2 linked regions of the Homo sapiens genome follow. The protein of the gene in region 2 purifies or fractionates together with the protein of the main gene of each other region. This does not show direct contact. Each region holds a gene or a part of one and is shown on either strand. Other genes may lie near its edges.

Evidence for each region.
Region 1: the proteins of MXRA7 (region 2) and CLGN purify together in Homo sapiens (co-immunoprecipitation; one large-scale study listed by IntAct). This does not show direct contact.

What each region holds. Positions count from the first base shown.
Region 1 is NC_000004.12:140,396,547-140,400,368, forward strand, and holds part of CLGN (calmegin precursor), read right to left. Parts: coding exon 3,811-3,822; intron 2,495-3,810; coding exon 2,305-2,494; intron 1-2,304. UniProt on the Homo sapiens protein: Functions during spermatogenesis as a chaperone for a range of client proteins that are important for sperm adhesion onto the egg zona pellucida and for subsequent penetration of the zona pellucida.
Region 2 is NC_000017.11:76,704,391-76,708,212, forward strand, and holds part of MXRA7 (matrix-remodeling-associated protein 7), read right to left. Parts: intron 1-3,822.

The sequences.
Region 1 (3,822 bases), on a different chromosome or scaffold from region 2:
GAGCTCCATTATTATTATTTTTTTCTTGAGGTGGAGTCTTGTTCTTGTTTCCCAGGCTGGAGTGCAATAGTGCGACCTCAGCTCACTGCAACCTCTGCCTTCCGGGTTCAAGCAATTCTCCTGCCTCAGCCTCCAGAGTAGCTGGGATTACAGGCACCTGCCACCACGCCTGGCTAAGTTTTTGTATTTTTAGTAGAGATGGGGTTTCACTATGTTGGCCAGGTTGGTCTTGAACTCCTAACGTCAGGTGATCCACCCACCTCAGCCCCCCAAAGTGCTGGGATTACAGGCATGAGCCACCATGCCTGGCTGGAGCATATATATATACATATATATATATATATGTATATATATATATATGTATATATATATATATACACATATATATATATACACATAGCTTCATTCTTAACAGTTGCATAGTTTTCTACTTGAGGATACACCATAATTTATTTAGCTTATCTCCTCTTGGAGGACATTTAGTGTTTCCAAAATTTTACTATTATTAATACAAACAATGCCATAGTGAATGTCCTAGAATATATGCCATTTCTCATCTGTGAAAATATAATTGTTAAGAGTATGGACATTTTAAATTTTGATAGTAGCATCCAAATTACTCTCTATAATGGTTACACTCCACTTCCGGTTCTACCAGCAGCATGCAAAAGTACCTATTTTCTCCTGTCCTTGCGAAGAGTGTTACCAAACTTCTTGATTTCTGCCCATGTGGTAGGTGAAAAATGGTATCTCACTGAACTTTGAATGTACATTTAGTAGCATAAGTGATACACAAAAACTATTTTTTCTTAGCTCATTACCTTTATACTAAGAAATTAGCTCTCTGTCAGCTATATGATTGAAAATAATTTTTCCTGGTTCTTGTGTGTTTTTTGAAATAGTTTAGGGAGGTTTTTTTTTTTGCAATATACAAATCATTTATTTTCATGTAGTTGAACTTATTTTTAAAGGATTCTTGGATTTTATGTCATATTTGGAAAGTTCTTCCCTATTCCAATATAATTTTTAAAACTCTCCTTATTTAATTCTAGCATTCTTATTTTAAAAAGAACACTTAGGCTGGCGTGGTGGCTCAAGCCTGTAGTCTCAGCACTTTGGGAGGCTGAGGCGGGAGGATCACGAGATCGGGAGTTCGAGACCAGCCTGACCAACATGGTGAAATCCCATCTCTACTAAAAATACAAAAATTAGCCGGGCGTGGTGGCGCTTGCCTGTAATCCCACCTACTCATGAGGCTGAGGCAGGAGAATCCCTTGAACCCAGGAGGCAGAGGCTGCAGTGAACTGAGATCACGCCATTGCATTCTAACCTGGGTGACAGAGCGAGATTCCATCTCAAACAAAAACAAAAACAAAAACAAAACACTTAGTAAATTCTGAAGTATATAAACATAAAGTACTGAACTACTAATACAATTTTCATCATTACAGAAAGATAGAAATTTTAAACAAGAGGACACTTCATGATTTTCCAAATGAGTTACAAAATAAACAGAAATAATCAACTTTACAAATGTATAGATTTGTGCTTGCCTGATACCAATGTCATCTTGAGTTTCTGAGTGCTCAGAGTAACCAAAAGTTAAAATTTAATGGAGCATTTCTTTTAGTACTTTGTAAAACAAATTCTAACACATTTCAACAATCAGAATGAAGCAGTTATATGTGGTTTCTCTCATTTAAGGGCAAACATACTCTTTTTTTTTTTTTTTTTTTTTTTTGAGACAGAATCTTGCTCTGTCACCAGGCTGGAGTGCAGTGGCACGACCTTGGGCTCACTGCAGCCTCTGCCTCCTGGGTTCAAGCAATTCTCCTGCCTCAGCCTCCCGAGTAGCTGGGATTACAGGCACCCGCCGCCATGCCCGCTAATTTTTGTGTTTTTAGTAGAGACGGGGTTTCGCCATGTTGGCCAAGCTGGTTTCGAACTCCTGACCTCAGGTGATCTGCCCACCTCGGACTCTCACACACATACAATAAAGATCAAACTAGGAATGAAAATTAAAGCACTGGTATTTTGGATTTATGAAATTTTTAATCCACAGCATTGAAAACATAAAAAATAAATATATATTAAAAAATGCAACATAATTATCAATAGAAATAAAAAAAAATTACAGGGAGGGAAGTGTAAAATCCATTTTAGAAAATATTTCACCCAAAATACTAAAAATAAGTAGTTCTGATGTTTAAAAAAATAAACTTCATGGGTTGTAAACTTCACTTATATGTTGTTTCATTACCTAGTTATGCCAGATAATGCTTTGCTACCGAATTATTTGCTTACCAGTCTTCTGGTTTGACGGCAGAAGGATCAGGAATTTTTGCTCTTTCATCCCATTCCTCAGGTTTTTTATCATTGGGATCTTCAATTTCTTTGGGAGGTTTGATAGGAGGAACCACATCCTCTAGGAGGCTTCCTTTGTTTACAACTGTTTGATCAACTAACACCTCAAATGTGTCATCTGGATTCATCACTAAGGGACCAATTTAAATAAATTATAGTTATCATTTTGATATACGCTTTAAAGATAATCTTCTAAATAATGTAACTACCCTTAACTCCATGGGTAAAGCTTTTTTCCCAACCAGAAATAGAGGAATAACCAATGTATTGAACTAAAACATTCTAAAATCACTAGATACATTTCCTAAAGATAAAATTTTGTTTTAAACTGCATTTTTTACAATAAAATGCTCCATTACTTCTCAAATAAAAAATAATACCAAATAGCTCTGTTTTGGGACTCATAACGAGTCAGCTTCACTCTTTTATAGTTACAAAATACAAGCTAATCTTTTTCAGCATTTAATTTTTTTGATACCATCTTAAAGTGTTGTAAGTATAACAAAAAATTAATTTATTCTGTTCTAGTAATATTTTCTCATTATTTCTACAGTTTACTTGGTGTTCCCCCAAATGCCTAGTTTTTTCAATTATTTCATAAAGATATTTATTATATCACATCTGATATTGAAGATGAAATGGGCATTGCCCGAGCAGACAAAATGAATGTTTCTACCACTGCAGCATTTGGGGAAAAAGATTGAAATACTTTAATCTTGGGTGGAGTTGAGACGTGAGAAAGGAAGCCAATAGGGCCATTTCAAAATGTCCTATTAGGTTCCAATATGCTCTGATTTTGATAGTGGGCTGACCAGAGCTCTACAGCCATTATACTTGAGAATGGGAGAAACAACTGCTTATGATGTCCCTCACCCCCATATCTATGCAAATTCCTATTTACTTAAGTATATTAATATATGGCTGCTCAATGCTTCTCCTTTCGAAGTACATGCCACAACCAACACAAGGTAGGACATAACAATAATCACAACTGCCTACAGAATAAAGTCTAAACTTTTTAGTCTGGCATTAAGGGCCTCTTCCTTTTTATTTTTTAGTTTTCTGTTCTGGCCTCTTCCTTTTTATTTTCTAGTTTTCTGTTCTTACAGCACCACTGTCACAACGTCTAAAATGTCCTTTCACCCTACTGTCTTCAACATTCTATCTGTACTTCAAGACGAGTTCAAATATAATCTTTCCTAGCTTTGTTCCAAGTCTCTAAGCTGGAAGTAATATTGCTTGTGAACTCTTAGCTGTGCCTCATCTCTCTTTCTTATATGGTACTTTATTTTCTACCCGTGCTGTCATTATACATGTCCTATTTTCTGAAAAAGATAAGCTCCTTCAGGATGGGGTACACATTTGTTTTCTTGTAAAGCACTTGCCATGAATACATCAATAGTCAGCAAATATTTTTGAATACATGAATGAATTAAAAGGGTATACCAAGGGTATAAA
Region 2 (3,822 bases):
GAGATGGGGTTTCACTGTGTTAGCCAGGATGGTCTCGATCTCCTGACCTCGTGATCCGCCCGCCTCGGCCTCCCAAAGTGCTAGGTTTACAGTCGTGAGCCACCGCGCCCGGCCAGCTTTTTTTTTTTTCATGCCTGTAATCCCAGCACTTTGGGAGGCCGAGGCAGGCTGATCATTTGAGGCCAGGAGTTCAAGACCACCCTGGCCAACATGGCGAAACCCCGCCTCTACTAAAAATACAAAAATTAGCCAAGCATAGTGGTGCATGACTGTAATCCCAGCTATTTGGGAGGCTGAGGCAGGAATACTGCTTGAACCCAGGAGGTGGAGGTTGCAGTGAGCTGAGATTGCGCCACTGCACTCCTGGGCGACAAGAGCAAAACTCCGTCTCAAAAAAAAAAAAAAAAAAAAGAATGCTGGAAACAGTTCTGCATGAGGTCCCCTTAGAGAAGGGGCTTCTGAACCTGACCTCCTCATCCTGTTCCATACATCTGTCCTTAACAGTGGCAAGCCCAGTGTGGCCAAACGCAGGTTGTTCCAGAAATACTCCTAACCATCAGGGATCTGGCATTTCTCTGGAAGACGGTTTACCAGAGGCCCAAGCTGGTCTCCCTCCTCCCACAGTGTGGTTTGAGCCGAGTGGGAAAGAGCGGGGCTACAAAAAGGAAACTGTCTGCATGCTCACCATTTCATTTCTAGCTCTCCAAAGCTAGGTGGCTTTTTTTCTCAAGACATATTCTTTAAAAACATACTCCTTCTTGCTAAGCAGAAAATTCTAGCTGACATTAGTCTGTAACCAAGGCTCTTTCTCTCTGAAAGAACAAAGTTTATCTATTAGGAAAGCCCCTGGACTTCTTTCATATATGGAAAAAAATTAAGTTAGGCACTCAAACAACTTTACAAAAAAATACCCACTGGAACTACTGAACAGGGAACTCTACTTACAGCCCTCCAAGGCATCTTCTATTCAGTTGCTCTATATCGTTATAGTTATTGTGAATACAATATTTTATGTTCTACCTTTTTACTTATTTCATACTAATTTGCTAATGAATCCAATGTGCTAATTAATGAACATTTGGATTATTTCTAGTTTTTTCCCCAGTAAGTCACTGGGCCTGTTCTGGACTAAATATTTGTGTCCCCTGCAAATCTATCTGTTGAAGTCTTAACCCCCAGTGTGATGGTATCTGGAGGTGGGGGTCTTTGGGAGGTGAGATTTAGACGAGGTCACGATGGTGGAGTCCCTACAATGCTATGAGGGCCCTGATAAGAAGAGGAAGAGACATCCCTCTCTCTCTGGCATGTGAAAGTACAGCAAGAAGGTGGCTGTCTGCAGGCCAAAAAGAGAGCCCTCACCAAAACCAGAATCTGCCAACACCTCCATCTTGGACTTCCCAGCCTCCAAAAGTGTAGGAAATAATGCCTGTTGTTTAAGCAACCCAGTCTGTGGTATTTTGATATATCAGCCTAAGCTGCTTAAAGACAAGGACCTAAAGTGATATAAACAACTGGCAAATATCTACTTGGCCCTCCACTACTTGGCTTCTGAGATTTTGCTAAGAGAACAGAAAGTAGGACCACACTGCCATCACAAAGGCCCACACTGCCATCACAGAGGACCACACTGCCATCACGAAGGCCCACTCTGCTATCACAAAGGACCACACTGCCATCACAGAGGACCACACTGCCATCACAAAGGCCCACGCTGCCATCACAAAGGCCCACGCTGCCATCACAAAGGACCACACTGCCGTCACAGAGGCCCACGCTGCCGTCACAGAGGCCCACGCTGCCATCACAGAGGCCCACGCTGCCATCACAAAGGCCCACTCTGCCGTCACAGAGGCCCACTCTGCCATCACAGAGGCCCACGCTGCCGTCACAGAGGCCCACGCTGCCGTCACAGAGGCCCACGCTGCCATCACAAAGGACCACGCTGCCATCACAGAGGCCCACTCTGCCATCACAGAGGCCCACGCTGCCGTCACAGAGGCCCACGCTGCCGTCACAGAGGCCCACACTGCCATCACAAAGGACCACACTGCCATCAAAAAGGACCACACTGCCATCAAAAAGGACCACACTGCCATCAAAAAGGACCACACTGCCATCACAAAGGCAGGAGAGATGATGGGGAAGTTCACCTGCTCCTGGGTCATTCTGGGAAGGCTGGGGTCTCTGTAGCTTCCAGAGCCCACACCTATGGTGAACAGGTTGGTGAGGGCAGAGGACACAGGTGGACCTGACAGCAGGGTGACTTCAGGGGAACCAGGGCCAAGTCACATGGTTAAGACAGACAGATGAAGGCTGTGCTACCCACTCAGACCACCACCTCCAGAGTGTCTGAAAAACCAACCCCTTTCCCAAGAAATTTCCCAAAGAAGAATGTTGGCTTCTTTGTTCCAACATTCTCTTTTGAAAAATTCCAAACCTACAGAAAAGTTGAAATAATAATACAATGAATACCATACACCCTTCACCTAGATTCACCAATGGTTAACATTTTGCCATCTTTGCATTCTCTCTCTATACACACACACACTGTGTGTGTGTGTGCATGTAACTATTTGAATCATGACATGTCATCCCAAAATGTTTCAGCCTGCATCTTCCTAAGGATAAGGACATTGTTTACACAGCCATCTGCCGGTATCGTACACAAAAAATTCAGCGTTGATTCAATAAGCTTACCTAACACAGCCATTCATTTAAAAAATGTCTCAATTATCTCCAGTATGTCCTTTATAGCTCCCTTCTCTGATGGAGAATCCAATCAAGGATCAAGATTGTATTTATTTGTCATATTGCTTTAATCTCCTAAATCCCAATTAAATCTAGAAGAGTCTCTGTGTGCTTCATGACACCGGCCCACTGCCTTGCAGGAAGTCCCTACTCTTTTTTTTTTTTTTTTTTTTTTTTTTTTTTTGAGATGGAGTCTCGTTCTGTTGCCCAGGCTGAAGTGCAGTGGCACGATCTTGGCTCAACTGCAACCTCAGCCTCCTGGGTTCAAGTGATTCTCCTGCCTCAGTTTCCTGAGTAGATGGGATGACGTGCACGCCACCATGCCTGGCTAATTTCTGTATTTTTAGTAGAGACGGGGTTTCGCCATGTTGGCCAGGTTGGTCTCGAACTCCTGACCTCAGGTGATCCTCCTGCCTCGGCCTCCCAAAGTGCTGGGATTACAGGTGTGAGCCATCGCGCCCGGGCTCTAGTCTGTCTATGAGCAGAGCTAGGCCCCAAGTACCGAGATACTTGAGTCCTGGCACAGACAAGAAATTTAACTCTAGTGCTATTCAAATGACCCTTGACGCTTTGCCAATTACCAATGTTTGGGAATCCGACCATCCAGCCTTGCTCCAATCCACAAGTCCATTAGGTAAGAGGCCTGGCAATCCTAAAACCCCAACCTACACAGGAGCACCAAGAAAGCCCTGAGTCCTGGCCTGAAAAGAGGCCGGCTCCTGTTCTTGACTTCGTTGGCTCATGATTCTTTGCGTGAACAGGCCTTGCCTATAATGCTTCCTCACAGCCCACCCTGTGCTAATCCTTAGGAGAGAAAAGAGGTTCTAGCAGTATCATTCCGCTTCTCCTCAGCCTCCCTGCCCTGGCCTGTGCTGCCCTGGGGAAGCAAGAGCTGCACTGATCTCATCCCCATTTCTTTGGTCCATTTCCAGGGTCTCGGCCTATAGTAGCCCCTCCCCACTACTTTGTCCTTGGCCAAAGAGGGCACCGTGCACTAGGGGACGCTCCTGAGCGATCCCCAATAGCAGCTGAAGGCTGCTTCCCGGGGCGAGAGATCCTTCTCAATAATCAGCT